Linked DNA regions of Homo sapiens. The protein of the gene in region 2 purifies or fractionates together with the protein of the main gene of each other region. This does not show direct contact. Each region holds a gene or a part of one and is shown on either strand. Other genes may lie near its edges.

What was found. Proteins that work in one complex are often made in the same cells at the same time.
Region 1: the proteins of ANTXR2 (region 2) and HS1BP3 purify together in Homo sapiens (affinity purification with mass spectrometry; 2 studies listed by BioGRID and IntAct, with this or other methods). This does not show direct contact.

What each region holds. Positions count from the first base shown.
Region 1 is NC_000002.12:20,623,359-20,627,105, reverse strand, and holds part of HS1BP3 (HCLS1-binding protein 3), read left to right. Parts: intron 1-2,213; coding exon 2,214-2,374; intron 2,375-3,074; coding exon 3,075-3,210; intron 3,211-3,747. UniProt on the Homo sapiens protein: May be a modulator of IL-2 signaling.
Region 2 is NC_000004.12:80,071,099-80,074,845, reverse strand, and holds the start of ANTXR2 (anthrax toxin receptor 2 isoform 1 precursor), read left to right. Parts: upstream 1-1,616; 5' UTR 1,617-2,285; coding exon 2,286-2,437; intron 2,438-3,191; coding exon 3,192-3,263; intron 3,264-3,747.

The sequences.
Region 1 (3,747 bases), on a different chromosome or scaffold from region 2:
GGGAGAGAAGCATCGGGCAGAACAGTGGCTGCGAGCCTGGCTGACCGTGGAATTCCACAGGAGACTGAACACAGCCTCCTGGGCCTGCTTGGGGTTTCCGACTCAGTGGGTCTTGGCTGGGGTCAGCTTTGCTGTCTGCCCCAGGAGGCCATGGCCCTTGTTTGGTACCCACTTCCTAGGAGTCATGAGAGCCGAGCTGGCTCTGCCTGATTGGTAAGAATAAAGGGGAGAATGTCTGAGTAAGAGCAGGCGAGCCCTGGCTCCTCCAGGTCTCAGAGGAGCAGAAGCTGAAGATTTCTGGAAAGCACTTGCCCTTAGGGTGGAGAATCGAGGCTCCCTCCACCTCACCTCCAGCACCACAAGCAGGGCCTGAGGGTGGTGCACAGCAGAGGAGGTCCCTCATGGCCTGAGCTGGGTGGAGAAAGCACAGGACCAGGCAGATGGGCCTTCTTGGAGCAGTCCCTGCCACTGCGTCTCTGCTCCCCATCACTACCCTTGAAACATGCCACTTTCTCCCCAGAGAACAGCAGGATCAATCCTGTTATCCCTGCGCCATCCTATATCACCTTCCTCATGGGACATTTGGAGGGGACAAGAGGATAGGACCATGAGTATGACCATCCTCAATCTAGACCCAGCCTGCCTGTCCCTTCCCTGCTGTGTGGCCTTGGGCAGACACTCAGCTTCTCTGGACCACTGTTTCCTCATCCAACAAACGAGCCCTGCAGAGATCCTTCCCCTGGGACTGGGCTCTGAGCTCAGAGGATGCTCTGTCCTGCAGCCTTCCAGCAGGGAACCTTCCAGCAGGGAGCCTTCCTGGCTTTCATAGTTTCTCCTCGCCTCGGCTGGGTGCCTGGGATTCTGCCAGACCTCAGACTCCAGACTGTGGGAATGGTCACCTTGCGGGGACCTGCCCCTCCAGCACCCAGGGCCATTCTGCTATTTTTATCTGCCATTGGTTAATCTGTATCATTGTGTAGGCCAGCCTCTCGGTGCAGTTTTGCCGCAGCGTGTTACCAACATGAGCTCAGATGGTGACCTCACATAGTGACCTCAGTCCAGTGGAACTGCCCGCCAGGCGGACAGGCACACGGAATTTCAGTTTCCAGTAAAGAGCATATTCTCATTATTTTCAGGAACCTTAAAATGGCTAATAGACATCATCAGCAGGGATTGAATGCCTGTTAAAGTAATTATTAAAGTAAAATCAAGTGTGTTTACTTACTGGCGGTATCACTTACAGTGACGTACACAGATCCTGAGCATTCAGCTCCATGCGTGTTTACTTATCCAGCCCGTAACTACCGCCTGGATCAAAACTAAAGTACTCCTACACCCCAGAAGCTTCCATCCTGCCCCGTCCTGGTTTCTTACAGCAGGGTCTGGCCCAGAGCAGGACCTCCTCAGCCAGTCGGCAAGTGCACTGTAATGGGACCTGGGGTGGCAGAGTCGGAGCCGGGGAGGTGGGCAAGTCCCAGAGAGGCTTCCTGAAAGAGGGGGGCTGCTCCACAGAACCCAAGTGTTAACTAGAACAATGGTGGTTTTACCATGCAAAGGAAACAATAAGGCACTTACCAAAGCTGCTTTCTGCCCTCCTGAGTCCTAGCCCTGAGGTTTGTGGCTCAAGACCAGGTCCATCCCCATTTCTGAGTGGCTGTGGAGTGTGGTTCTCTGAGCCTGGCCCCCAAGTGCTGAGACCCTGAGACCAGGCAGCTGTCTCTACCTTCCGAATGGGAGTGTGATCTCTGGCCTGTGACCGCATGGCAGACTCAAGGCCTGAAGGCGTCTAAGAGCTGGGGTTGTCTGGCAGCTGGTGCCCGGTCCTGGCAGCCGCCTGCTCCTCCTGACAGTGGTCATTTCTTGAACACAGGGCACAGCTGCCCACAGTAGCGGGGGCCTTACCACTCTGTCATTGGGGAAACCTGCTTCTCAACCACCTTCGCTGGCCTGCTTTTCTCCCCTGGGATGGAGGACCTGTCCTTCCCTTGGCCGTGTGACCATCTGTTAGAGATTTCAGAAAGACTTCAGCTCCACCTGCCTGGACTGCTCTGGGTGGCCCCCTCCAGGACTTCCCTGGTCCCTCTGGCCTGGTCTTTTCTGGCCCATGGCATCCAGCCCCTCCACTGCAGGGCCCAGCGCCTGTGTCGGTCTGACCGGACCACCTGGACACTTGTGGGAAATCCTCACCTTGTGCTTTGTCTGTGATTCTCCAGCTCCAAGAAGCCCAAGAAACATCCCAAAGTGGCCGTGAAAGCCAAGCCCTCGCCCCGGCTCACCATCTTTGACGAGGAGGTGGACCCTGATGAGGGGCTCTTTGGCCCGGGCAGGAAGCTGTCTCCACAGGACCCCTCGGAGGACGTGTCATCCGTGGACCGTAAGTAGAGCCCCATGGTCTGCTCCTGGTGTCCTCTCGGTGCCCAGCCCCATCACCAGGCAGGGTCTGGACTCACCCGGCGTGAATAGGACCCATATATCTCCCCTGTCCTGTTTAGATGTGATATAGACTCAGCTTTGTGCTTCCATGACATCTGTGGGCAGATGTGGGCCCTGGGCTTCCAGGCACTGTTTGTGTGGTAAGCGATAGGGCCTGCCTAGGGCACATGTGTGACTGTAGGTTTGGATTTAATGGGACTCTGTGTCGCCTGCATGGACTCTGCTGGAGGGCTCTGTGCAGAGTTGGCAGAGGGAAAACCGAGCGGCCTTGGGACATCTCCACTCATCCCTTGGTCCCTTTCCTCACATGCCCAGGTCGTCCTCCGGTGAGGGGAATTGATGCCACCCACTAATTCAGCCCATACTTGGTGAGCCCTCACTGAGGGCCAGGCCCAAGAACATGCTGAGGAGTGAGACCTAGTCCCTGTCCCTAGTCCCTATCCCGAGGGCCCCGGGGGCCCCTGGGGAGACAGGTCATTGCCTGACAGTTACAAAGCAGCACCAGTTATGACAGGTTGAGCAGAGGCATCAATTCCTGTAGGACTGCCCAGAAGACTTCCTGGGGTGGGGCAGAGAGAGAGCAGCCATGGCATCCCAGCCTAGAGGCTTCCTCTGACCCCCCTGCTGCTGCCTTCCCACAGCCCTGAAGCTATTTGATGATCCTGACCTCGGCGGGGCCATCCCCCTGGGTGACTCCCTCCTGCTGCCAGCCGCCTGTGAGAGTGGAGGGCCCACACCCAGCCTCAGCCACAGGGACGCCTCCAAGGAACTGTTCAGGTACCACCTGTCCCCAGCGGCGCTTGGCCAGCTCTGAGAGTGTTCTGGACAGAGCCAAGGGCCCGGCTCATTGCCCAGTCTCAGCCCCAGCCTCCTCTGAGGGGAGGACCCCAGGCCTGTGAAAAGTAGAAGCCTGTGGGTGCACATTGGGTGAGAGGCGGTGAAGGGGGCTGAGGGGGAGGATCCGCAGCCCAGGGCTGCTCAGCTAGTTCCAGAAAGAGAGAACTTTGTGTGCACAACCAGTCTTTCTTTTCACAATCATATTTTAACAGTTTATGTAAAGAATAATTAAATTATATAATTGCAAGAGCAGGTATAACTGGCATAAGCAAGTTTGGGAACAAATTAAACGGACTCATGGCAGCATGCAGCCCACCCAGCGAGGGGGCAAAGTGCAGATGTCTTGGTGATGGCCTCTCTGCCGGAGGGCCCGGTCGGCAGCTTTCACAGAAGGAAGGGAGAATGAGGCCTCAGCTGTCACATGGAGGTCAATTGGCAGAACCTGTGCCGGTGACAGCTCCTATTTCCTGAGTCCTT
Region 2 (3,747 bases):
GGCCAACTCATTTAGCATAAATTCCTGTTCCACCCTTTCCTCCCTCAAAGTGCCTGCTTTTTGTCTCTGCCAGAGGCTACACTTCCCAGCCTGTCAAGATGTCCAGCCTGCAGCTGTAACCCTTTATAAGAAATGAAGTTCTCCTTTCCAAATTTATGAACCTCAGGATTGTTTGTCAACATGTTGCTACTGCAATAGTCTCCTAACTGCTCTCCCTGTTGTCACTGTTGCTAACTCCAAATTCATTGTCTCATTGCAGCCAGAATGATCTTTGAAAAACACAGATCATATCAATTCATCTGCCACTCCACTCCTGGGCTTAAACCCCTCTAATAACCTCCTGTCACACTCAATATTAAATATCTGAATTCCTTATCTCAGTAAACAAAGCATCACATAATCTGGCCCTTGCCTATTTGTCTTACATCATCTTACCTGCAAAGCTCCAGCTACACAGTTTTTTTTTTTTCTTTTTTGAATATGCTAAGCTAATGTCTATGGACCTTTGCAGTAACTCCAAATGTTTCCCCTTAGAGCTCTTGGAATGACTGGGTCTTTTTTGTTAGTCACTGAGTCTGTCATTCTTTATCATCACAATATTTTAAATTTCTACAGGCCACCTTTCCAATATGGACATTTTTTTTCCTTGCTTATGTATTTATTTCTTATTGTCTGTTTTCACTCTTCAGCCAGACTGTCAGCTTCATGAAAGCAAGGGCTTGTTATCTTGTTCTGTGCACTAACCTCCACTTCTGGAACAGTGCCTAGCAAATAATAGGCACTCAATGAATCTTTGTTAAAGTAACTAATTTTTATCTTCAAAGAGCTGACATATCTGGTTGTATATCAAATATAATAAATGAAAAGTTAAATACATATGGCAACAAACAGAAGAGATGTATATGTAAGTACTACATAAAGCATTGATTTTGTTAAAAATGAAAAGGTATTTAGGTTCTAAAAGCCAGTTTTGACTAAGGGAGGGCGGAAGTCACGGAGGTGGGGGGAAGAGAGAGGAGGGAGAGCAGAACTAGTAGACAGAGGATTTGTGCACAAACTTGAGTGCTTGCACAAGTTTTGCAAAGGAGACCTAGCTTGCCCAAAGCTGAAATTCTCCAAAACTGGAGCTTGCAGGGAAATGACAGTGGGCTGAAATATTTTGAGGTACAACTTTCCACTCCCAAAGAGGCCTGCTATCCCCTCCCACTCCCCACTCCGGCCTTTCCTTGGCTTGGCTTTTTTTAAAGAAAAAAAAAAAAAAAACTAAGCAGGTTTCTTTAGAAGAAAAAGAGGAAGTTCATAAAGAGTGTTTGTGGTAGTAGGGGTGGGGTGGAGTGAGGAGTGAGGAGGCCGTCACCTCCCATGGAATCCTTAGTCTTGGGTTTGTGAACCACGCATGGGGGCTGTTTTAGCACAGCTGCTAAAATAGGCCAGGCCTGCAGGACATACGGGTATGTTTAGTTTCTAGATAACTTTTGTTTTTCTAAACTCCTTCTTCCCTTTCCCAAATCTGGCAAGCGTTAGTCATCTTCAACTCGGCAGGAACCCACAAGTGTGCATGTGTGGCTCGGAGGCTTCAGCTGGGGCCCCGCCCTCGTCCCCAGGCGCACACTGACACACGCAGCCCAGACCCGGCCCGAGCGGGCTCCTGCCCTCGGCGTGGCTTCTCTCCAGCCGGGAGTCCCAGGGCCAGCTAGCCTCCTCCCCTAAAGGGGACGGCCTGTCAGCGCAGTGCCAGAGTCCAGCACCGGGAGGAAAGTTTCGGAGTGCGGAGGGAGTTGGGGCCGCCGGAGGAGAAGAGTCTCCACTCCTAGTTTGTTCTGCCGTCGCCGCGTCCCAGGGACCCCTTGTCCCGAAGCGCACGGCAGCGGGGGGGACTTCAGCCCTCCAGGCGGGGTGGGTTCCAGGTCCGGGTCCGAGGCGGGCGCTGGAGGCTCGGCCCCAGGCCGGAGAGGAACTCCTTTCGCGAGCTGTCGCCGTGGGCCCGCATTGTCTGCAGGAACTCTCCGGAATCGGGAGGGGGAGGACTGGATCGCGCTTCCACTGGGATTCGTCAAGAGTTCCGGCGGCAGCTGCGGCGGTGGCGGAGACTCCCTTTGTCCTCTCAGGACCTCCCTCTCTCCCTCCCTGTCAGCTGGTGGGTCCCGCTGCCGCAGGCGCCGGCGTCTCAGCTGCTCGCCGCCCCCCACCCCAGAGTGCGTGCCGGGTGACTCCCGCCACCTTTGCGACCCTCCTGAGCTTAGGGGACTGCGAGCGGGAGGGAGTCTCAGGCCCCCGGCCGCAGGATGGTGGCGGAGCGGTCCCCGGCCCGCAGCCCCGGGAGCTGGCTGTTCCCCGGGCTGTGGCTGTTGGTGCTCAGCGGTCCCGGGGGGCTGCTGCGCGCCCAGGAGCAGCCCTCCTGCAGAAGAGCCTTTGATCTCTACTTCGTCCTGGACAAGTGAGTGTGCGAGGGAGGTCCAGGGTCTCCTGGTGAGGGCGGCACTGGATCAGCTGGGGCTGAGGCTGAGATGCGTGTGCGCACCCCGGGGAGTGGTGTTGGAAACCCGCGGAGGGGTGCCCTGTTGCTGTCTTCTTTCAAAGGGCAAGCGCGTTCGGATCTGTGTGGGCGGAGATCAGCCGGGTCGGGGGTAGTGATTGGAGCCCCGGGCTACTTGGCTCTTTGGGGAGTTGGGGTATTCACTGTTTGCCAGTCTTTTGGCCTCTTGGGAAATGGGAGTGTGGCCTCTTGCGGGCCACGCTCCATCGGCCACAGAGTCCTTACCCACCTCCTCGACCCTGCTCGTACGCAGGCTAAAGTTTGCCTGGTTTTATCCTAATCATAGCGCTTTCATTGGAGCCAGGAAAAGCCTAGGGTTAACATGCCCAATGTGGTTTGCATTTCCTGCGAAGAAAGGCTTTTGTGTTTACTCTGAAGAGCTGGGTTCCACTCTAAACAATTAGGCAGGTATTTACCCACCCCAGAAAACGGGCTGACTTCTTCTTCTTCTTTTTTTTTTTGACGGAGTCTTGCTCTGGGACTGACTTCTTTAACTCTGGGTACCACCAAAGTTTCAGCTACAGATACCCTTACTTAGCTTGAAAAAGAGGCCAGGTGCCCCTATGTTCGTGGCATTGAAGAAGGAACCATTTCAAAATGTTTACTTTTCAGTTCCGTGTTTTGTTTCTCTGATCAGTTCAATTTCATCTTTCAGGTCTGGGAGTGTGGCAAATAACTGGATTGAAATTTATAATTTCGTACAGCAACTTGCGGAGAGATTTGTGAGGTATCTTTCTTACTTTACTTTTCTAGGCAGTGGAGAAGTAGAGCAAAGTGTAGAATTTCCCTTTTCTGAAACCTTTTATAGGAAAAACTTTTCCTGAAATGTTACTTTTAAGTGCCTCAAGGTCGTATTGCACACATGCTGTTATTAGGACAGCCCTTCAGTCCTTGAGGGCTTATTTCATCTGGATCCCAGAAACTTGGCTCAGACTCTGGGGAAGCATCTTCAAATACTATTCCAAATGTCTTTTTCTTTCCGAATTTTCATCTGTTTTGAATTTCAGTTATGCTTTCTCATAATTTATCACATTAAAAAAATAAATTTTATGCGAATAGTATCCATAATATATTTTTCTTTCCACACATTTCTTAGCATTATAGAGGCCCTCATTAAAACAAACAAAAAGTGTTGGAAAACTTCAAATGAACATGTGTTAATAACCCGCTACCAGAAAAGGCACTTGTGTGTGTGTTTAAAGCAACGACTT